Homo sapiens: one gene and its partners. The protein of the gene in region 6 purifies or fractionates together with the protein of the main gene of each other region. This does not show direct contact. Each region holds a gene or a part of one and is shown on either strand. Other genes may lie near its edges.

Region 1 (3,500 bases), on a different chromosome or scaffold from region 6:
TGTGAAGTGTATTTCTGTAGATTAAATTCTGTTTTCCATTGAATGTTATCTTAATTTCAGAAAATTTCTGTGCAGGGTTATTTTATTAAGCTCATTTTTTTTTTTTTTTTTTTTTTTTTGGTGAGAAAGGCTCAGCAGCTAATAGACTCAGCAACAGGCAGCCAGGAGCTCTGAGGCTCACAGCTGGCAGTCTAGTTCCACTCAGTCTCTACTGGAGAAATTCTTTCTTTGGAAGTACAGCAGAGGCCTTAGGTGAGTGGCTTGTCTGCTATGGCAGAGATTAGAGGTGCTGCCAGACTGCCATAAGTGTTAGGCAGTAACAGCAGCAGCTGCTTATATGCATGTGAACAGCTGGGGAATTAATTTGGTATGCATTCTCAGGAGCCACTCATCTGCTGGCAGAGGTAGCAGAAGAATGCCCTTAGTGTAAGTCCTCTACAACCATACACCAAATGTGCTCCCTGCATTTCAAATTCCATTGTAGAAAGTCTCTGATAATCTCACTTATACTATGAGCCATTCCTCAGTATCTGTCCTCTTCCTGTTAGTGTTCTACAATTCCTTTCTCCTTAATTTTTCTCCGCTTTACAAAATGTCACACAGACAAGTGCATAATACTTAAACAAGCTTTTAAAAATAATGCTCATAAATAGCTTTGGTTCTGTCATAATATTCGTATTTATAAACATTTTAAGTCAATTCTCTTCTTTTGTTTTCATTTCAGAAATATCCATGTCCTGAATAAAAGTTGTGTCTTGATTAGTTTATTATGTAACAATTTAGTGTGTTTGACATTTCTAACTTTTATTTCTAACATTTGCTTTATTATAGAACAATAAACATGCAGTGATTGATTTTTCTTACTTCAAGTGGATGAGTGAGCAAGTGACTAAAATCTTCTGTGAATTATTCAGTGTATGGTGCTTGCCAGTGCATCTGAGAATCTAGGGACTTTCTGAAATAGTACTTCCTTGCTATGAGGACTGAAGTTGCATTAGAATCCTTTTCAATGAAGATCAGATGTCCTGAGTACAATTCTTACTATTGGGTCCTGAATCTTACATTAAATATTCTCTCAAATTCCTTGAGGCATAGCAACTTGAGCTTACCAGTTTAGAAACTGGAGATTTGGGCTGGGCGCGGTGGCTCACGCCTGTAATCCCAGCACTTTGGGAGGCCAAGGTGGGTGGATCACGAGGTCAGGAGATGGAGACCATCCTGGCTAACACTGTGAAACCCCGTCTCTACTGAAAATACAAAAAATTAGCTGAGCCTGGTGGTGGGCGCCTGTAGTCCCAGCTACTCAGGAGGCTGAGGCAGGAGAATGGCGTGAACCCGGGAGGCGGAGCTTGCAGTGAGCTGAGATCGCACCACTGCACTCCAGCCTGGGTGACAGAGCGAGACTCTGTCTCAAAAAAAAAAAAAAAAAAAAAAACAAAACCGGAGATTTGGTTAACAAAATAGTCAAAGTCACTCTTATAGAAGTTTTGTTTTATTTTTTGTTTAAAATTTTTTTACCATTTTGTAGCTGACAAGTACTGACAATAAACTGCTATAAGCATGTGTAGAAAAAGGCTCACCTTGAGTAGTTAAGAGTAAGGAAAAGGAATAGTGTGTAGCATCGTCTTAGTGGTAAGACTTAAGTTGATTTAGTAGCAAATGGAAGTACTAGTGAACCACATAGATTTCAGAAGTAGGAGTAAAAGGTTAGAAGATGTGTCATTTTAATCTTCTCTAGACTTTTTCTTAATTTTTAGAAATGTAAGTGGACTGAACAGAGGAAAACCAAAACACAGCTGGTCAATAATAAGTTAAATTAATTTGACAAACTGCCTACTATGCATTTCATAGCATTTTAAGGACTATATAAGCAATGGATAAGGCAAAAACTCTGCCTTTAAGGAGATCAGTCATTGGGGGGAAACAGAAGCAAACAAACAAAAAGGCAACATAATAGATATTAATATTAATACAAGAATTTTAAAAGCACAGAGTTCTATAATAATAGGAAAATAGAGGGAATGATTGCTCAACTTTTCTTGAAAAAGAGTCAGGAAAATATTGACCGAGAAGACAGTCATTGACCTGAGTCTTAAAGAATGAATAAGGCTTTTACAGATGGAGTAGGGTAGGGATAACTTTCCAGGTATAAGGAAGATTTTGTATTCCAGGGACCTTTGAATTTTTTAGAATGGCTAGAAAACTTGGTATTATGTAGCACAGAAAAAGTGGTATGACTGAAGAGATAGAGAACTTACCACAAAGGGTCTTGAATGCCATGATACATAGTTTGGATTTTCTTCTGTAGGGAGCAAGGAGTTAGTGAAGGATTTTAAAAGCAACATGCCTCTTGGGAGGTAGATTCAATGTGAGGCTAATCTCCGAGGTATAGGAAATACAGGAAGGAGGAGCAACAGGTCGGGTAGTGGTGGAAGCAGGTTTGGAAAATGTGATTAGTTTTGTAAGCGTTTTTGAGTTTGAAGTGCCACTGGGGAAGGCTTTTGGAAATTTATTTCCAGAGTTCAAGACTGAGCTATCATTGCAGTTTGCTCAGCTATTTACTGAGCTATCTACTGTCAATTTGGATAGTATCTACAGTTTGCATTGTAGATACTGGATACTTGGATTGGCTGGTGCACCCTGTTTGTGAGACTCACTGGAGTTTGAAGAGATGACCACTGGAAAATATCCCTAAGCAGTAGCTGCAATTCCACCCCCACCTTGGAGAGCCAAAACCCTCTTCATTTTCACTCTCCTGTCCTTGGTCTTAGGCTACTTAAAGCAGCCTTTAGACATAGGGAAAAATTGAAAGCCTCTCTTTTAAGAAAAACATTAGGTACTTCTGGAATAGAGAGTTCAAGAAATTAGGAGAAAAATGAACTTTTGAAGCTTTTTCTTTCCCTTTTTTGTTTACTTCATTCTCTTACTCAGTTTTAAAATGCTGGTAATGGTCTTTTTTTTCTTTTTTTTTTTTTCTTGGCGATTTTAATGCTTTGGAAAAGATCTCATGGTTTTATCTCCAAAGGAGGAAATTAATTTGATGCCATGGAAATTAGTTTTCTAGTCGTATGCCTTGAATGAGTGAAGAATTTGTTTTTCATGGTGGTACTAAATTTGGGGAAAGCTATAGAAACTTTCATCTGGAAGCTTACACTTTTCCTCTTTTTTGAAAATTTGGTGAGAGACTTGGATATTTTATTGTTTTCTGTAAAAGAGTGTAATTTGTTGTACAGGTCTAATATTGATCCTTTTTTGGAAGTATGGAAAGAATCTGAGTATAAAGCAGAATTACCTCTGGATGGCATGTATTCTCAAGGACACTGTCACAGTGAAACAGTTTATTTAGAAGCTTGTGTTTCCAAAGTGTTGAATTTGATATTCACAAAATTGGCATGTGTAAACTTTATTAAACTTTAAGCTATTTCCTAAGATGAAGATGACAAACTTGGAGGGAAACTTCATTCATTTGGTTTATTTTTATTTTTATTTTTATTTATTTT
Region 2 (2,571 bases), on a different chromosome or scaffold from region 6:
GATATCTGTGCCTGTACCCAGCGATGCCGACTCCCCCAGATTCAAGACCAGTGTGGGCAGCGCCAAGTATGTGCCGGAGAGAAACGTCGTGATTTGGAGTATTAAGTCTTTCCCGGTAAGTACCAGGGACTGGCGGGGGATCTGGGGGTGGAGGGGACTGGAGTAGTGTGGGGGCTGCCCAGGAGCCATGAGAACAAGGCAGAGAACAAATCAGAGACCCAGTCAGGTGTGATGGCTCATGACTGGAATGCCAGTACTTTGAGAGGCTGACACGGGCAGATCGCTTGAACCCAGGAGCTGGAGACCAGCCTGGGGAACACAGTGAGACCCTGCCTCTATAAAAATATTAAGAGGAGCTGGGCGCAGTGGCTCACGCCTGAAATCCCAGCCTGGCTAACATAGAGACGGCTAACATCCGTCTCTAGTAAAAGTACAAAAATTAGCTGGGTGTGGTGGCGCATGCCTGTAATCCCAGCCACTCGGGACACTGAGGCAGGAGAATTGCTTGAACCCGGGAGGCAGAGGTTGCAGTGAGCTGAGATTGTGCCACTGCACACTCCAGCCTGGGCAACAGAACGAGACTCCGTCTCAAAAAAAAAAAAAAAAGATTAAAAGGCCAGACATGGTGGCTCATACCTGTAATCCCAGCACTTTGGGAGGCTGAAGCGGGCAGATCACCTGAGGTCAGAAGTTCAAGACCAGCCTGGCCAACATGGTGAAAACCCGTCTCTACTAAAAATACAAAAATTAGGGCAGGGCACGGTGGCTCACGCCTGTAATCCCAGCACTTTGGGAGGCCGAGGTGGGCGGATCACGAGGTCAGGAGATCGAGACCATCCTGGCTAACATGGTGAAACCCCATCTCTACTAAAAATACAAAAAATTAGCCGGGCGTGGTTGCAGGCGCCTGTAGTCCCAGCTATTTGGGAGGCTGAGGCAGGAGAATGGCCTGAACTCGGGAGGTGGAGCTTGCAGTGAGCAGAGATCACGCCACTGCACTCCAGCCTGGGTGACAGAGCGAGACTCCATTTCAAAAAAAAAAAAAAAAAAAAAATTAGCCGGGCATGGGGGTGTGCGCCTGTAGTACCAGCTACTCAGGAGGCTGAGGCAGGAGAATCACTTGAACCCGGGAGGCGGAGGTTGCAGTGAGTTGAGATCACGCCACCGCACTCCAGCCTGGGTGACAGAGTGAAACTCTGTCTCAAGAAAAAAAAAAAAACTTAGAAAAAAGAAATACAAGGCCAGGCGCAGTGGCTCACGCCTGTAATTCCCAGCACTTTGGGAGGCTGAGGCGGGCAGATTACGAGGTCAGGAGATCGAGACCATCCTGGCTAACACTGTGAAACCCCGTCTCTACTAAAAATACAAAAAAAAAAAAAATTAGCTGGGCGTGGTGGCGGGCGCCTGTAGTCCCAGCTACCGGGAGGCTGAGGCAGGAGAATGGCGTGAACCTGGGAGGCGGAGCTTGCAGTGAGCCAAGACCGCACCACTACACTCCAGCCTGGGCGACAGAGTAAGACTCCATCTCAAAAAAAAAAAAAAAGAAAAAAAAAGAAAAAAAAAGAAAAAAGAAATACAAGTAAATCAGAGAGGTACGTATGTATGCAAGTGATCAAGCTTGAAACCAGGCCAGTCTATTTCACAGACGTGTAAACTTCCATGACGGGAAGTGTGTGGATTTAAATATCCCCCTGCCAATGTCTTGAGGAAACCAGCCCTGGGTTCACCTTCCTCACTATTGCTTTGCTGAGCTGGGTGGGTTTGGGAAACCCATTTCCACTTAAGGAGGCTCAGTTTGCCTGTCTGTGAAATGGGCAGGATGAGGTGACCCACATCCCTTGGCTACTAGAGGTTTTGGTTTGTCCCCATGATCTTGGGAGAGGTGGATCATCAGTGCCTGTAAAACAGGACATGGTAGTTAAAAAAAGAAAAAAACCCTGATTGGGTTTTGCAGTCAGAATCTTCCCTGGTGAGTCTCTGTCACCCAGGTTGGGGTGCAGTGGTGAGATCATGGCTCACTGCAGCCTCAAACTCCCAGACTCAAGGGATCTTCCTGCCTCAGCCTCCCAAGTAGCTGAAACTGCAGGCATGTTCCACCGCACCCAGCTAATTTTTAAACTTTTTGTAGACATGGTATCTCAATATGTTGCCCAGGCTAAGGAGCCTTTATTTTCCTGTCTGTGAAATGGGCTGTGAGCAGATCTGACTCCAGGGGTTGCTGAAAGGAAGGTCTCGGGAGGGTAGGCGGACCCTCGTGTACCTGATGCCCCCATGTTCCCTCAGGGGGGCAAGGAGTACTTGATGCGAGCCCACTTTGGCCTCCCCAGTGTGGAAAAGGAAGAGGTGGAGGGCCGGCCCCCCATCGGGGTCAAGTTTGAGATCCCCTACTTCACCGTCTCTGGGATCCAGGTGAGAGAAGCAGGCAGGGAGGATCCTCCCCTTGACTTCGGTGGGTTCCCCTCTCTCCTGTCCCTTGGCTCGAGTCACCTCAGTCCCCTGGCCTGTGTCAACACTCCTCTGAAGGCTGCCTGGTCTTTCCCAGAGCAATGTTACCTTTATCTGCCCACAGCC
Region 3 (3,500 bases), on a different chromosome or scaffold from region 6:
TATGACAACTATTTACATAGCATTTATATTGTATTAGGTATTATAAGTAATCTAGAGATGATTTAAAGTATAAGGGAGGGTGTACATAGTTTATACACATATTACACCATTTTATTCAGGGATTTGGCCATCTGTGGGTTTTGCTATCCGTGGGAGATCCTGGAACCAATCCCTCATGGATGTTGAGGGATGATTGTATATTTATATTTGTTGACATGCATTTTAGAGAAGCTTTTGAAATAAAGTATCCCTAGTGTAATTTACTTCAATCATGTGAGTTAATTTGTTTCTTAATACCCACTATTATCAAATACTCAGTATTATTGAAAAATTTCTAAACACAAGTACAAGTGTGTTCGTAGTTTAAATTTCTGTCATCCTGAGCAGCTTTAATTTTTTTTCCTTAACCTGAAGCTTTGTGTCTAGACTTGTGGGTTCTCCTACAAATTTGCCAGATTTTAGATCAAACCTTGGCTTTTCCAAATAACTATAGTTTTTTCAAGCCAGACCTAGGATAGGAATGGAAAAAGAAACTTTCTTTCCTGTTGTTGTTGGAGTGATGTTAGGTTGAATATGACTCAGTAAGCTAAGCCAGCTAAGGCTGCAAACAGGCTTCTACCACGGCAAATGATAATGATTCAAGTACAGACTTGGGGCAAATCTGTAAATTTTATTTTGTAGGTCAATGACGCTACCTATGAGATTCCAGATTTTTCACCAACCATTAAAGGTGTTCTTTGGGAAAACTGGCCAATGGATAAAGGTGTATTTATTGCTTATGATGATGATAAGGTGTACACTTATGTCTTTCACAAGGACACTATACAAGGTACTAAACCCCTTTTGTGTATATTCGCTGACAGATGAATTTCCCATTGCAGTAAAATTAAAACATTCTTTCTGATGTTTGTGCTGAGTATTAGCTTTCAGCATTGCGATGTCTGTTTTATAATGTAGGAGCCAAGGTTATTTTGGCTGGTAGCACCAAAGTTCCTTTTGCTCATAAACCTTTGCTGCTATATAATGGAGAGCTGACCTGCCAAACACAGAGTGGAAAAGTAAACAACATCTACCTTAGCACCCATGGCTTTCTCAGCAACTTAAAAGATACGGGGCCTGACGAACTGAGACCAATGCTGGCACAGAATTTAATGCTAAAGAGGTAGGCTTTCACACACTTCTTTTGGAACTTCTCATTTGCTTTTGTGATTTTAAAGGTCAAATCCTATAATTATTCTATCTTATTTTATTGCTTTATTCTTTATCCTTGCAAGAATTTTTTTTTTTTTTGTAAATGTAGAAGTACAAGTGCAGTTGTGCTACATGGATATAGTGCATATGGTGAAGTCTGGGCTTTTAATGTACCCATCACCAGAATAGTGAACACTGTACCCAGTGGGTAGTATTTTATCCCTCAACCCTGTCTCACCATCCCGCCTTTTGGAGTTGCCAGTATCTATTATTCCACCTGTATGTCCATGTGTACCCATTGTTTACCTCCCACTTCTAAGTGAGAACATGCAGTTTTTGACTTTGGGGCATTTCACTTAGGATAATGACCTCGAATTCCATCCATATTGCTGCAAAAGACATGATTTCATTTTTTTAATGGCTGAGTAGTATTCCATAGTGTGTATATCTATATATACACACCACTTTTTAAAATCCAGTCATCTGTTGATGGACACTTAAGTTGATTCCATGACTTTGCTATTGTGAATAGTGCTGCAGTAAACATATGAGTGCAGGTGTCTTTTTGATAAAATGTCAAATCCTATTCAATAGATGGAGATAACAGCACTTACCTTGTTCATTTCACAGGGATATTGTGAGGCTCAGATAAGATAGTCAGCTGTTTTTATTATGAGTACTTTATTACAAGAAAAGCCCTTAAGAACAAAACGGTTTCTAAGCTTCCAGAGAGCCTAGTTATTGGGAAATCCTAATAAAATAAACCTAATTATTTCAACAATATCTTGACTTCATCATAGTGAGGTTTGATTTTGCTTTGCTTATAATTTCCTTTTACTGTTTTTTTCTCTTATCTCCTAGAGCCACCGTGAATTCCTTTGACGTTCTAATTCTTCCGAGCCTCTCTTAAATGCTGCTGTTTATTGGGGTCTCATGAGTTTCCTTCTCTTCTTACTCTAATTATTCTTCCTGAGTGAATCTCCTCTGCTTAACATGGCTCAACATACCACCCATATGAAGCTGACTCTAAAATCTGTGTCTTTATCTTAAACCTGTACTTACAACTACCTTCCAGTCATGTGTCCTTGGAAGTCCATGAGCTCTTCAAACTTGCCCTTTCTAAAACTGAACTCATCAATTTCCACAGGCCCCTATTTTCCCTCACTGTAATCACACATGCACATGCCTTAACACACATATACACCAGCTCCTTTCCTCCTCCCGTGTTCCCTCATCTTTACCCAGGCCCTCACCTGGAATAATGTGTAATGTAACTAACCACTTCCTAACTGCTCTGTCTGCCAATAGCCTTGTAACGATCTCATCTGTTCTCCACACACTTTTGAAGATGTGATTTGATCCTCTTATTTCCCTGCTCAGGATCCTTCAGTGACTTTCTATTGCCTTTACAAACAAATCCATTCCTGGGGGACCTCTATGACCTACTAGGCACTTCATGATTTAACACCAGCTCAACTGTCTCCACTCAAGTCCCTCTCTGTTCCACTGGCTGCTGAAATTGCATATATTTCATGATTCTTCCTGGAATGCCCTTTCCCTGCTCTGAATGTAGTAACCCCTCTTTCTTTACCCATCAGCGATAAGTGGAGCCATCTCCTGCTCCAGGAAGCCTTCCCCGACTTCCCCACCACCACAGGCAGTCCTGCTTGGGGTCTTTCTGATGTGTTGCCTCAGAGCCAGGATGCAGTATACACAGTGGTGAAGAGCATGACACCACTTACCTCTGTGTGCCTTGGGCTAGTCTTTTGACGTCTCTAAGCCTCATTTTCCTAATCTATAAAGGAGACATAATAATAATACTTAGTGGGTAGGGTTATTAGGGTAAGAGAATTTATGCAAAAGACTTAGCACAAAGAGTTACCTATTGTAAGTACTCAGTTACCTCTGTCAAACTATGCTATAGTCATTTGTTTCCTTATCTGTCTCTTCCACCTTCCCCAATTGTGACTGCCTTAAGGACAGCAACTGTGGTTGATTTTTGTATCATGTTTCCAAGCATGTAACGAGTTCAGTAAATGTGTGTTGGATGAAAAAATGGATAGGTGAATAGATAAATGGATGAATGAATAGATAGATGGATGTAATATATTCACTCATGTAGAGGTTCCACAAAAAGTTTAATTGGCATTTATGTTCATGTTTTAAACCAGAGGTCGGAAAACCTTTTGTGTTAAGGTCCAAATGGCAAATATTTCAAGCTTTACGGGCCATAGGGTCTCTATCGCAGCTACTCAGTCTGGCTGTTGTAGCAGGAAAGTGGCCACAGACAATCCATTAAAGAGTGGGCT
Region 4 (3,500 bases), on a different chromosome or scaffold from region 6:
GTAGGTAGTTATCTATACGCCAGGAATAAGTAATAGGTAACACCTTCCTGGAATAGTAATTTTGCCAGTGAATAACTTTAAAAATCTATTTCATATTAAAATACAGATGTATTTACAGAATAGAATGCAAAAGTTCCATGAACATAACACTGGTCCGTGAACTTTTAAGATAAGACACAATATTTCAAAGAAATTTCATGTTCGTAGAGGAGCCTGTGGGTTATAACTCCAGTCTCTCCAGGACTACCTAGTTCCTATCATCTGTCCTTAGACTACTTTTTTTTCCCCTTTGTTGAGATAGGGTCTTGCTCTGTTCCCCAGGCTGGAGTGCAGTGGTGTGATCTCAGCTCACTGCAACCTCTGCCTCCCAGGTTCAAGTGTTTCTCGTGCCTCAGCCTCCCAAGTAGCTGGGATTACAGGAGTACACCACTACAACCAGCTAATTTTTTTTTTTTTTTTTGACACAGTCTTGCTCTGTTGCCCAGGCTGGAGTGCAGTGGCGTAATCTTGGCTCACTTCAAGCTCCACCTCCCAGGTTCAAGCGATTCTCCTGCCTCAGCCGCCTGAGTAGCTGGGACTACAGGCACATGCCACCATGCCTGGCTAATTTTTGTGTTTTTAGTAGAGATGGGGTTTCACCATGTTGGCCAGGCTGGTCTTGAACTCCTGACCTCAAGTGATCTGCCCACCTCAGCCTCTCAAAATGCTGGGATTACAGGCGTGAGCCACCATGCCCGGCCCTTAGACTGCATTTAGTAATGACGAAAAAGAACATGCAGGTCATCCTAAGGGACTTTCTTATGTAACATCATCTGAATACAAATAAATTATTTGTTACTTTTTCAAAATATTGGGTTAGACTAACTGAATTGTTAGCAGTATATTTAGTCTAAATTGTTAGTAGTATATCTTCTTGAAGCTATGAGTATTGATGAGGCCAGATAATCATAGAAAACTGTTTAGCTAAGAGAAGAAATCTTCAATTTTACAGGAAACTATCTGAAAATACCTTATGAAAATTTTACTAGATCTTAATCTTAGTTTAGAAATTCATTTTACTTAAAAAACTCTGGTGCATCTCCATTATTAACTAAATGGCTTTAACGTTTTTTATTTCTCCATCAGCCAGAGAATAACCAAAAAGCACTCTCTACCAAAGCCAAGAACAAAATCAATCCCTAACACTAAAAAAGTCACTAGCACATTATTTTGAAAAAACATATTAGGTTTTATTAACATTTAATACAGTACTAATATTCATAAACAATTACTATCCCAACACATTAAATGCATTTAATAATTATGGTACTGAAATATGTAAGTACATGTATTCCAGAAATTTCTCATTCAATAAACTACATTTCCATCAAATAGTTTAAATATGGAAACAATTTCACTATGTAAGAACTTAGAGCAATTATACATTTTACAGTTATATTTTGCTTTAGAATTTTTCAGCATGCTTCTCATTTACTACTATTTCATCTGATTCTCACAGCAACCTGGTAAGGTAGTTAGGTCTGATATTATTACTATCTAAGAGATAAAGGGGGGCCGGGCACATGGCTCAAGCCTGTAATCCCAGCACTTTGGGAGGCCGAGGTGGGTGGATCACAAGGTCAGGATATCGAGACCATCCTGGCTAACATGGTGAAACCCCGTCTCCACTAAAAATACAAAAAATTAGCCAGGCGTCAAGGAAAAAAAAAAAAAGAGAGAGCGATAAAGGGTCTAAAGATCAAAGAAGATCCAAGACTTTTTTTTTTTTTTGAGACAGAGTCTCGCTCTGTCACCCAGGCTGGAGTGCAGTGGCGTGATCTGGGCTCACTGCCAGCTCCGCCTCCCGGGTTCACGCCATTCTCCTGCCTCAGCCTCCCGAGTGGCTGGGACTACAGGCGCCCGCCACCACGCACGGCTAATTTTTTGTATTTTTAGTAGAGACGGGGTTTCACCGTGTTAGCCAGGATGGTCTTGATCTCCTGACCTCGTGATCCACCTGCTTCGGCCTCCCAAAGTGCTGGGATTACAGGCGTGAGCCACCACGCCCAGCTGAAGATCCAAGACTTAACCAGTCACTTAGCTAGTAAGAGACAGATATCATTCTTATTAAAGTATTTCAGGAAAAAAAAAAGAGAGAGAGAGAGAGACAAAACCCAGGTCCTCCTGCCTCAGTCTTTGTGATCTTTCAATCAGATGACATTTGAGGAGCATTTCATAGCTGAAGAGAACAAGGAAACCATCTAGTTCAACTACTTTATTTTACAGATCAACCCAGTGAAGTTAGATGGTTCCCAGGGTTTATACAGAATTGCTAAGAGAACTAAGCCTAGAATCCAGGTCTCTGGACTCTCTCCTTTGAACAATTACTCTCAAAAATAAAGACAAAACCATCTAGCATTTCCTTGCCTGATGTCAGTTTTTAAAGAAAGAAATCATCACTGATGAGAAAAAAAGAATTCATTTCCAAATAACAAAAGAGTAAAGACACTATTTTCAAGCTGACAAAAAACAGGATGCACAACATATAATTAGCAATCAGCCGTTCTAGTTCATTTCTTGCTCAGCAGCTGCTGGGTGACACTCTCTTTACCCAGTTAAATTCCAAATGCTTCTGATGATCTTGGGTATATCTCATGGAGAACAGTATAGGACAGGGATCTGCCTTGGTATATCACACAAGTTTATTTAAAAATTAGCCTGAATTAGTTGGAATGACCTGTCAGGTTCCTGTTTTCCCTACTAGCCATGTGACTGAGCATTGGCTCATAGTATTTTTAACTATACCAGTTTTAAAATTAGATTGTAGTATATAAAATTCATACTTCGGAGGCTAAGGCGGCACAAGAGTTACAAACTGTTTGGGCTTTAGAGTTGGAAAATATAAAATGAAATCCCACCTCTAGCACTTACAAGCCATGGGACTTTGGGCAAGTGATTTAATATCTGAAACCCTATTCCTTCATTTGTAAAATGAGATGGTAATACCTACCCCTAGGGTGAGTCAGATATGCACAACAATTACTAGCACAGTACCTGGCCCATAAAAGGTAGTTATTACCATCACAGAATACGCCTCTCCCATTCTGATTCAGCAGCAATATCTACACTAAGATGATAGAACTAACTAAAAAAAAAACAAAAAACAAACAAAAAACTTGTGCTTAAAAAGACTTTTAAAACAGTGTTTTCATAATGAAATATTTCAGGCATACATGTAAGTGTAAATTATATAATAAACAGTGATGCACCCACAACTGAGCTTTGAAAAAATAAATCAAGATAATTTATTTAAATCTGCTCTTAAAATGAGACTTGGGATCTTGAAAAACAAAGATTTGCAATGTTATTTTCTGTTCAGCTTTCTAAGAATATTCAACACAATATATTCAGCAGCCTTACTATACATTTCAAGTATTTTGTCAGGCAATTACTAAGTAGTGTTTCTTAATACTTTGTGAGCACTACCTGTATTCTCTCAAGCCAACCTTTTCCTAATTCCC
Region 5 (3,500 bases), on a different chromosome or scaffold from region 6:
CAACATGGTGAAACTTTGTCTCTACTAAAAATACAAAACTTAGCCAGGCATGGTGGCCTGCACCTGTAATCCAGCTACTCGGGCAGCTGAGACAGGAGAATCACTTAAACCCGGAAGGTGGAGGTTGCAGCGAGCTGAGGTCACAGCATTGCATTTCAGCCTGGGCAACAAAGCAAGATTCCATCTCAAAAAAAAAAAAACATTAAAACAAAAATGTCATACCATATTAACTATAATTTTGCAAATTGTGTTTTCTTTTTTTTTTGAGATGGAGTCTTGCTCTGTCGCCCAGGCTGGAGTAGTGGTGCAATCTTGGCTCACTGCGACCTCTGCTTCCCGGGTTCAAGCAATTCTCCTCCTTTAGCCTCCTGAGTAGCTGGGATTACAGGCATGCACCACCACACCTGGCTAATTTTGTATTTTTAGTAGAGACGGTTTCACCATGTTGGTCAGGCTGGTCTTGAACTCCTGACCTGATGATCCACCCGTCTTGGCCTCCGGAAGTGCTGGGATTACAGGCATAAGCCACCACACCCCATTTTGCAAATTTTGTATTCATTGAATTATAGATCATGGATATTTTTTCCATGTGAGTATAAGTACTTCTAACTCATTCTTTAACAGCATCACAAATACTGTGCCCAAAATGACAAGCATTACAAGTAGCAAAATTGAAAAACTGATAAATATATAAGGACCTAACTTGTTTTTTTATCTAAGTAGCAGGTCATTCAGCCTCTGACTGGAGCAGATTTTGGGAATACCCAAAGGCAAGGCCAAAATTTTCCTTAGGAAGTAACTTTGTGTCTGTTAAAATATTTGGATGTATTCCAAGTTAAAGACTTCCAGTTAACCTAGAGAGGGCAGAGGGAATAATTTGTTCCTAGAGACTTGATAGGAAAATCTGCCAGTGTCAAGTTTTCAGGCAAACAATGTATTTAAAATGTATTAAAGGTAGAGAATATTTTAAATGTTTTCTTCTTGGTCTTTACATTTTATATATATATATATACACACATATATATGTACATATACATATACACATGTACATGTACACATATATACATATATACACATACATGTATGTACATATATGTACATATACATATATACACATACATGTGCATATATGTATACATATGTGTATATATGTATACATGTGTGTACATATCTGTATATATACGTATATATGTATACATTTATACGTATATATGTGTATATATGTTGTTTTCAAATCAGTTGATATATGCAAAATTGCTAACAAATGCAAGTTGTATTCGTAACCTAATTTTTAAAGCAATTTTATTCTAGGTGTTACTAAGAGTACTGTATTTGAATATTGATGTTATTCATGAATGCCTCTATTATTTTCAGTTTGTATTCTGTTTCAGTTTTTAAATACTTCTCCTTCAGGGATCTGATGTGATGTATGCAGTTGAAGTTCCTGGACCCCCTACTGTCTTAGCACTACACAATGGAAATGGCGGTAATCAGGATTTTATTTTTCACAAATCAACTATGTGTTTTAATAGTAAGTGAAAATGGGAAATTGTAGAAAGGACATAAACTAGAATTGAGACAGTTGTCTTTCTGGTAACTTGCCAGTAACTAACAGCACGAGTTATTGAACTTTTAATTCTCCGTTTTTTTCTTTTTTGGGGGGCTGGGGGGCAGGGTCTCACTCTGTCTCCCAGGCTGGCGTGCAGTGGTACAATCTCAGCTCACCACGGCCTCGACCTCCCAGGCTCAAGGGATCCTCCCACCTCAGCCTCCCTAGTACTACAGGCGCACACCACCATGCCCGGCTAGGTTTTTGGTATTTTTTATAGAGACAGGGTTTCGCCATGTTGCCCAGGTTAGTCTGGAACTCCTGGGCTCAAGGGATCCTCTCACCTCAGTCTCCCAAAGTGCTGGGATTACAGGCATGAGCCACGGCACCCAACCTAGTTTCTTCATCTTAAAATTATATAATGGGGAAATGTCTTATCTCTTATAGCTATAAAATTGTGTGAATATATAACCATTCTCAACAATTAAGTTTTATATCTTTTTATAGTACTTTTTAAAATGATATTTTTACATAACAACATTTTAATTTTAAAGAGATTACTAATTGTAGGATAAATATAATATGTTGACTTTAATTATAAGTAGGTGACTCTGGAGAAGACCTTTTGTTTGGGACATCAGACGGAAAACTTGCGCTTATACAGATTACTACATCCAAACCAGTACGCAAGTGGGAAATTCAAAATGAGAAAAAGAGAGGAGGTATGCTTTTCATGTAGTTCAGATTCTGAGGTGTCAATGATTATTAAGTATCTTAAATTATATAATTTATTCTATTTTATCTATTTATACTACATAGCAGACTTAGCAATTCACACCTTGATTTATCTACTATTTGTTTATTTGTCAGGTCTATTATACTATTGGCATAATTTTTTAAAAGTAAGAAATGCTGATAGTAATTTGGTATTGATACGTTTTTATAGGCTAATATCATTTTATGCTAAAATCCAATTTTAATTGGATTTTAATTGTCTGAGGTAATTTAGTTGTTTGAGGTACAGAATTAATTGGAATCTGGGAGTCTTTGTTATGAGGCAAAGAAGAAGTGCAGTGGGTCAGAGAATATTCCTGTTTTCTAAGGAATTTATACCTTTCTAAGGAGAATTTATAACTGATTAGGTAGATAGTGAGATGCCTATGTATATGTTCAGGATGTTCATATATTCATTTATTCCTTCAACAAATACTTATTAGGAGAGACAGAGTAAAAACAAATAAATACATAAGACAGCTTTACCTAGTCACCTGAAGAAAATAAAACAGGGCTGTGTATTAGAGAGTGATGGTAGAAGGAGGAGGGTCACTTTTAGACCACGTAGTCAAAGATAGCCTCTTAGAAGAGGTGAAATTTGAACTGAGATCTGATTGATAAGAAAAAGAGTTAGCAATATGAAGATTTGGGGAAAAAAATGTTTCAGGAAGAGGAAAAAGTAAGTGTGAAAGATTTGAGGTGGAGGTAGATTTGATTCATTTGAGGAACAGTAGGAAGGTCAGTCAGTTTGGCTAAATGCGTTAACATGGCAGGAGATGGAGTCAGAGAGGTAGAGTAGAGCCAAATTGTGTAAGCCTTGGAAAACAGTTTGAATTTTAATCTAGGTGCTGTAGGAAGTCATTAGAAAATTGTCAGTGGGAGTGTGACACTTAATTTACTAAGCCTAAACAAAACAAAGGACACTGGAGAATGGATTGGAGGGGGCGGGGGGCAACAGGTCAAAACTGGAAGCATGGAGACCAGTTAGAAGAGTTATTATAATTTATTCTAGTCTAGGCTAGCTTAGTCTAGGCTATCAGTAGCTGGAAACATAGACAATTTCAGTATATATTGTGGAGGTAGAGAAGATGGAATTTGCTAGCAGTTTTGATATGAGGGGTGGTGAGAAAAAGAAAGAAATCAGATGTGGCCCAGAATTTTTGTCTGAGCAGCTAGG
Region 6 (2,408 bases):
GAAGATGGTGTTTTTCTTTTCCTTTTAAGCTCAGCGGTTAGCAGCTTTCTAGATAAGGGCAGTCCTGATCATAATCTGACTGTGTTTGCACAGAACAGCAGAGCTGGCCTCTCCCCTCCTGCCCTAAATTCTGGTACTTGCTTGTCTTCCTAATTCATGCCTGTGGCATTTTTTTTTTTTTTTTCAGAATAGGGGACTTATGTCTGCATTAAAAACATGTTCAGGCAGATATCCTTTCTCCTCTTTCTCCTCAGTGACTTTCTTCATGGTTTCCGTATCCAGGAACTTGTCTGCTGCCCCTTGGCCGACAGAAGCTGCTTCTCCTGTTATCTTGACATTTTTCCAGCCAAGCCTCTTTCTAAAATTATCAAACCATCCTTTGCTGGGATTAGATTCTCCAGCTTCAGTTCCTTCCCCTTCCTTTTGTTTGAAGAGACTACAGGTACACCTTTCTCAGTGTATTAGTAAGTATTCTCTAGAAGGACAGAATAGGATATATATACATATGAAATGGAGTTTATTAAGGAGAACTGAGGCACAGGATCACAGGGTGAAGTCCCACAATAGGCTGTCTGCAAACTGAGGGGCAAGGAAGCCAGTAGTAGCTCAGTCTGAGTCCCCAAACCTCTAAAGGAGGGAAGCCGACAGTGCAGCCTTCAGTCTGTGGCCGAAGGCCCGAGAGCCCCTGGCAAAACACCAGTGTAGGTCCAAGAGTCCAAAAGCTAAAGAACTTGGAGTCTGATGTTCAAGGGCAGGAAGCATCCAGCATGGGAGAGAGATGAAGGCCAGAAGACTCAGCCAGTCAGCTTCAGCCACCTTCTTCTGCCTGCTTTTTCCAGCCATGCTGGCAGCCGACTGGATGGTGCCTGCCCACACTGTGGTGGGTCTTCTCCCAGTCCACTGACTCAAATGTTAATCTCTTCTGGCAACACCCAGAAACAATACTTTACATTCTTCAATCTAATCAAGTTGACATTTAATATGAACCATCACACACAGCAATCCTATACCCACATAAAAGCTGCATTCCCAATACAAGATAAAAAGGTATTTCACAGAAAGTGTTAAGGCTTTTGTGCCTGCTCACAAATTTCCTTATTTTTTTACTATGGTCCTTACGCTGGATTCATTTATCTTGAATTGGTAGGCAACCGCAGCTGTAAACCTCAATCTACGGAACATATCAAGAAATTCAACTTTTTCTTGAAATGTCATGACTTTTCTCTGCTTCTCAGGAGCTCTTTGGCATGACTGGTGGCACTCTATGGGTCCCAAAGTGTTCTTCAAGGTTTACAGTATTGCGCTCAACATGAAAAATACACAAGAACATCCCGATGTCCCCTTTTTTTCAAGTTGGGGTCTCACTCTGTTGCCCAGGCTTGAGTGCAGTGGTGCAATCACAGCTCACTGCAGCCTCGACCTCCTGGGCTCAAGGGATCCTCCTGCCTCAGCCTCCTGAGTAGCTGGGACTGCAGGCGTGTGCCACCATGTCCAGTTAAAACAGATCACTTTTTACCGTGATACACAATGTACTGAAGACATGAACCGCTCGTGCAGAGATTAGCACCACACGATGTTTTAAGCGGATCCTTGACATGCTTGCGCTCACTGCAATAGCAACAGGAGGTGGCTTTGTAATTATTCCAGCAGCACACTGTGGACTGCAGTTAATTTCATGCAGTTATAATTTAATGCTGCATTTTTTTTTTTTTGAGACAGAGTTTTGCTCTTGTTGCCCAGGCTGGAGTGCAATGGCGTGATCTCGGCTCACTGCAACCTCTGCCTTCCGGGTTCAAGTGATTCTCCTGCCTCAGCCTCCCAAGTAGCTGGAGTTACAGGCATGTGCCACCATGCCTGGCTAATTTTTTATTTTTAGTAGTCACGGGGTTTCTCCATGTTGGCCAGGCTGGTCTTGAACTCCTGACCTTAGGTGATCTGCCCACCTCGGCCTCCCAAAGTGCTGGGATTACAGGCGTGAGCCACTGCACTCGGCCAATGCTGCATCTTTACGGCGACATTTCTCTCTACTGTGAATGGTCCATGTATGGTCTGTATATTTTATGCATTCATGACATAACTTTTTCTTTTTTCAGATATTTCTAGGCTATGTGGCTCATCTGCAAAGTTTTTCAAATTGTTGCAAATTTCCAAAAATTTTTGCAATATATATTTTTTTAAAAATCCACTTATAAGTGGACCCTTATAATTCAAACTCTTGTTCAAGGGTCAACTTATACAATGCTGGACACTCACTAAAAACTTATTAGAAAAATGTAATATATTATAGAAAAAAGAAGAAAAGAGATATAAAGGAAATGAAAAGATGGAGAATTTCAACAGAGAATCGGCATCCACAAAAAATTACCAGACACCTTAGACCTGAAAAACACAACATCTGAAATTTAAAA
Region 7 (3,500 bases), on a different chromosome or scaffold from region 6:
CCTCAGCCTCCCAAAGTGTTGGGATTACAGGCGTGAGCCACTGCGCCCAGCCTCCACTTCTTTTATACCAAAGCACTTACCATTTTCTAGCATCCTATGTGACTCACTTATGTTTACTGCTTATTGTCTACATCCTCCAGCTAGTATATAGGTTCCATAAGTACAGGGTTTATTGTCTGTTTTGTTCACCTAGTAGATGCTTAATAAATATTTACAGGCTGAATCAACGTCATAAAACATGGCAAGCACAGTCCATGGAAGATACCAGTACTGGAGGGGCTCCCACTACACTGTGCCTTGTAGGCTCTGTACCTGGTTCAATTTCTTGAACTCCACCACTTGGAAGAAGACGTGCTCAAGGATATGTTTGGCATCCTGTTGGTCCTTTGGTAGTTTACTGGTTACTCCAAGAATATCACCACACTTCCTGACATAAAATTCCAGGTCTTCTTCAGTACCTAAGACAGTTGGAGTAGTAGTTAGATTAATTCTTAACTTCTGCCCTTCCCAAAGTACAGACTTAGTGTGTTTCAGGTATGCCCTGTCATGTTTCCACATTTCCTAAGATCACTCACCTCTTCCTAAAGTAATGTGACTACAGGATTTCAACACTGAAAAACCCTAGAGCTCTCTAATGTGCTGCTTTTATAATAAAAGCACTCCTAATCAGAATAAAACTGGACTGGTACTGGCTTTCCTATTCCTCAGATCTAGTATTCCTACATTAGAAAGAACAGGTGCAACAGTAGGAAATCAAATTATCATTCCCTGAATGCAACAAAGATGACTATAGAGAAGCATATGGGTAATTAAAAATAGCATTTACTAAAACAATATTGTATTGGCTGGGCGTGGTGGCTCATGCCTGTAATCCCAGCAATTTGGAAGGCTGAAGCAGGTAGATCACTTGAGGTCAGGTGTTCAAGATCAGCCTGGCCAACATGGCAAAACCCCATCTCTACTAAAAATACAAAAATTAGCCAGATGTGGTGATGCAGGCCTGTAATCCCAGCTACTCGGGAGGCTGAGGCAGGAGAATCACCTCAACTGGGGAGATGGAGGTTGCAGTGAACAGAGATTGCGCCACTGCACTCCACCCCGGGCAACAGAACAGACTCCATCTCAAACAAAACAAAACAAAACAGCCGAGCGTGAAGGCTCACGCCTGTAATCCCAGCACTTTGGGAGGCCAAGGTGAGCGGATCACGAGGTCAGGAGTTCGAGACCAGCCTGGCCAGCATGGTGAAACCCTGTCTCTACTAAAAATACAAAAAAATTAGCCGGGCATGGTGGTGCGCACCTGTAATCCCAGCTACTCGGGAGGCTGAGGTAGGAGAATTGCTTAACCCTGGGAGGCGGAGGTTGCAGTGAGCTGAGATCACGCCATTGCACTCCAGCCTGGGGGACGTGGTGGCTCACATCTGTAATCCCAGCACTTTGGGAGGCTGAGGCAGGTGGATCATCTGAGGCCGGGAGTTCGAGACCAGCCTGACCAACATGGAGAAACCCTATCTCTACTAAAAATACAAAATTAGCCGGGCGTGGTGGTGCATGCCTATAATCCCAGCTACTCAGGAAGGCTGAGGCAGGAGAATCGCTTGAACCCGGGAGGCAGAGGTTGCAGTGAGCTGAGGCTGTGGTGAGCCAAGATCGTGCCACTGCACTCCAGCCTGGGCAACAAGAGCAAAATTAGGTCTCAAAACAAAACAAAACAAAACAAAACCCCAAAAAACAAACAATATTATAGAAAGAAAATTAAAGAAAAAAATCACCCATAATTCCACCAACAACATAGCTCTGTGAAGCCATCCTCTGGAGCCCTACATGTAGGATAGACAGCCATTACTGCCCTTCTCACATTATACTGTAATTTCTTTCTTCCTTTTTTTTTTTTTTTTTTTTTTTTGAGACAAGGTTTGGCTCTATCACCCAGGCTGGAGTGCAGTGGCATGATTTCAGCTCACTGCAACTTCTGCCTCCTGGGCTCAAACCATCCTCCCACCTCAGCCTCCCAAGTAGCTTGGACTACAGGTGTGTACCACCACGCCTGGCTGATTTTTTGTATTTGAGACGGGGTTTCACCATGTCGCCCAAGCTGGTCTCGAACTCGTGAGCTCCAGCAATCCACCTGCTTTGGCCTCCCAAAGTGCTGGGCTTATAGGCATGAGCCACTGAGCCCAGCTGTAATTAATTTATTCTCCCTCTGATTTGCATTTTAAGTTTTGATAGAAATGTATGTTTTTTACTAAGACATTCAAACCCACAGCTGTATCAATGTTTCATCCTAGTTCTACTGCCACCAACTACCTAGAATTATTATTGCTATGTATGCTTCTGTGTGTAAATGTAAGTTTTCACAAAAATGGGATCAAACTAGAATAGTTTTCTAAGTTGACTTCATCATTTAATGATGTATTATGGACATTCCGAATCAAAGTTTATGCCCTGCATTTTTTTTATTTTCTTTTTTGTTTTTTCAGATGGAGTCCCACTCTGTCACCCAGACTGGAGTACAGTGGCGTGATCTTGGCTTACTGCAACCTCCACCTCCCGAATTCAAGCAATTCTCCTGCCTCAGCCTCCCAAGCAGCTGGGATTACAGGCACCTGCCACCATGCCTGGCTAATTTTTTATTTTTATTTTTAGTAGAGACAGGGTTTTACCATCTTGGCCAGGCTGGTCTCAAACTCCTGACCTTGTGATCCACCTGCCTCGGCCTCCCAAAGTGCTGGGATTACAGGCATGAGCCACTGCGCCTGGCCTTTTCTTTTCTGAGACAGGGTCTCGCTCTGTCAACCAGGTTAGAGGACAGTGGCACAATCTTAGCTCACTGCAGCCTTGACTTCCTAGGCTCAAGCAATCCTCCCACCTGGGCCTCCTGAGTAGCTGGTACTACAGGAGTGAGCCACCATGCCCGGCTAATTTTGTTTATTCTTCTATAGAGAAGAGGTCTCACAGTGTTGCCCAGGCTGGTCTCAAGTGATCCTCTTGCCTCAGCCTCCTAAAGTGCTGGGATTATAGGTGTGAGCCATCGCACCCAGGCTACATTTTTCTTTTAACAGGTATGTAATATTCTATTTTGTTTCTATTTATTTATTTTTCAGAAACAGGGTCCTTTGTCACCCAGGCTGGAGTGCAAGGTGTATCATAGCTCACTGCAGCCTCCAACTCTTGGGCCCAAGTGATCCTCCCACCTCAGCCTTCCAAGTAGCTAGGAATATAGAAATGCGTCACCGCACCTGGCTACTTAAAAAAATTTTTTTTTTTAGATGGAGTTTCGCTCTTGTTGCCCAGGCTGGAGTGCAATGACACGATCTCGGCTCACCGCAACTTCCAACTCCTGGGTTCAAGCGATTCTCCTGCCTCAGCCTCCCCAGTAGCTGGGATTACAGGCATGCGCCACCACACCCAGCTAATTTTGTATTTTTAGTAGAGAAGGGGTTTCTCCATGTTGGTCAGGCTGGTCTTGAACTCCCAACCTCAGGTGATCTGCCCACCTT

The links.
Region 1: the proteins of LRRC27 (region 6) and ZNG1A purify together in Homo sapiens (affinity purification with mass spectrometry; one large-scale study listed by BioGRID and IntAct). This does not show direct contact.
Region 2: the proteins of LRRC27 (region 6) and AP1M2 purify together in Homo sapiens (co-immunoprecipitation; one large-scale study listed by IntAct). This does not show direct contact.
Region 3: the proteins of LRRC27 (region 6) and WDR19 purify together in Homo sapiens (affinity purification with mass spectrometry; one large-scale study listed by BioGRID and IntAct). This does not show direct contact.
Region 4: the proteins of LRRC27 (region 6) and KLHL12 purify together in Homo sapiens (co-immunoprecipitation; one large-scale study listed by IntAct). This does not show direct contact.
Region 5: the proteins of LRRC27 (region 6) and BBS7 purify together in Homo sapiens (affinity purification with mass spectrometry; 2 studies listed by BioGRID and IntAct, with this or other methods). This does not show direct contact.
Region 7: the proteins of LRRC27 (region 6) and IFT52 purify together in Homo sapiens (affinity purification with mass spectrometry; 2 studies listed by BioGRID and IntAct, with this or other methods). This does not show direct contact.

Annotation. Positions count from the first base shown.
Region 1 is NC_000009.12:148,057-151,556, reverse strand, and holds part of ZNG1A (zinc-regulated GTPase metalloprotein activator 1A), read left to right. Parts: intron 1-129; exon of another isoform or gene 130-252; intron 253-831; coding exon of another isoform or gene 832-850; exon of another isoform or gene 851-3,500. UniProt on the Homo sapiens protein: Zinc chaperone that directly transfers zinc cofactor to target metalloproteins, thereby activating them.
Region 2 is NC_000019.10:10,574,742-10,577,312, reverse strand, and holds part of AP1M2 (AP-1 complex subunit mu-2), read left to right. Parts: coding exon 1-115; intron 116-2,283; coding exon 2,284-2,409; intron 2,410-2,571. UniProt on the Homo sapiens protein: Subunit of clathrin-associated adaptor protein complex 1 that plays a role in protein sorting in the trans-Golgi network (TGN) and endosomes.
Region 3 is NC_000004.12:39,227,529-39,231,028, forward strand, and holds part of WDR19 (WD repeat-containing protein 19), read left to right. Parts: intron 1-681; coding exon 682-829; intron 830-957; coding exon 958-1,162; intron 1,163-3,500. UniProt on the Homo sapiens protein: As component of the IFT complex A (IFT-A), a complex required for retrograde ciliary transport and entry into cilia of G protein-coupled receptors (GPCRs), it is involved in cilia function and/or assembly.
Region 4 is NC_000001.11:202,920,735-202,924,234, forward strand, and holds part of KLHL12 (kelch-like protein 12), read right to left. Parts: intron 1-3,500. UniProt on the Homo sapiens protein: Substrate-specific adapter of a BCR (BTB-CUL3-RBX1) E3 ubiquitin ligase complex that acts as a negative regulator of Wnt signaling pathway and ER-Golgi transport.
Region 5 is NC_000004.12:121,853,475-121,856,974, reverse strand, and holds part of BBS7 (BBSome complex member BBS7), read left to right. Parts: intron 1-1,413; coding exon 1,414-1,486; coding exon of another isoform or gene 1,487-1,531; intron 1,532-2,151; coding exon of another isoform or gene 2,152-2,154; coding exon 2,155-2,271; intron 2,272-3,500.
Region 6 is NC_000010.11:132,379,601-132,382,008, reverse strand, and holds the end of LRRC27 (leucine-rich repeat-containing protein 27), read right to left. Parts: 3' UTR 501-2,408; downstream 1-500.
Region 7 is NC_000020.11:43,639,437-43,642,936, reverse strand, and holds part of IFT52 (intraflagellar transport protein 52 homolog), read right to left. Parts: intron 459-3,500; coding exon 313-458; intron 1-312. UniProt on the Homo sapiens protein: Involved in ciliogenesis as part of a complex involved in intraflagellar transport (IFT), the bi-directional movement of particles required for the assembly, maintenance and functioning of primary cilia. Required for the anterograde transport of IFT88.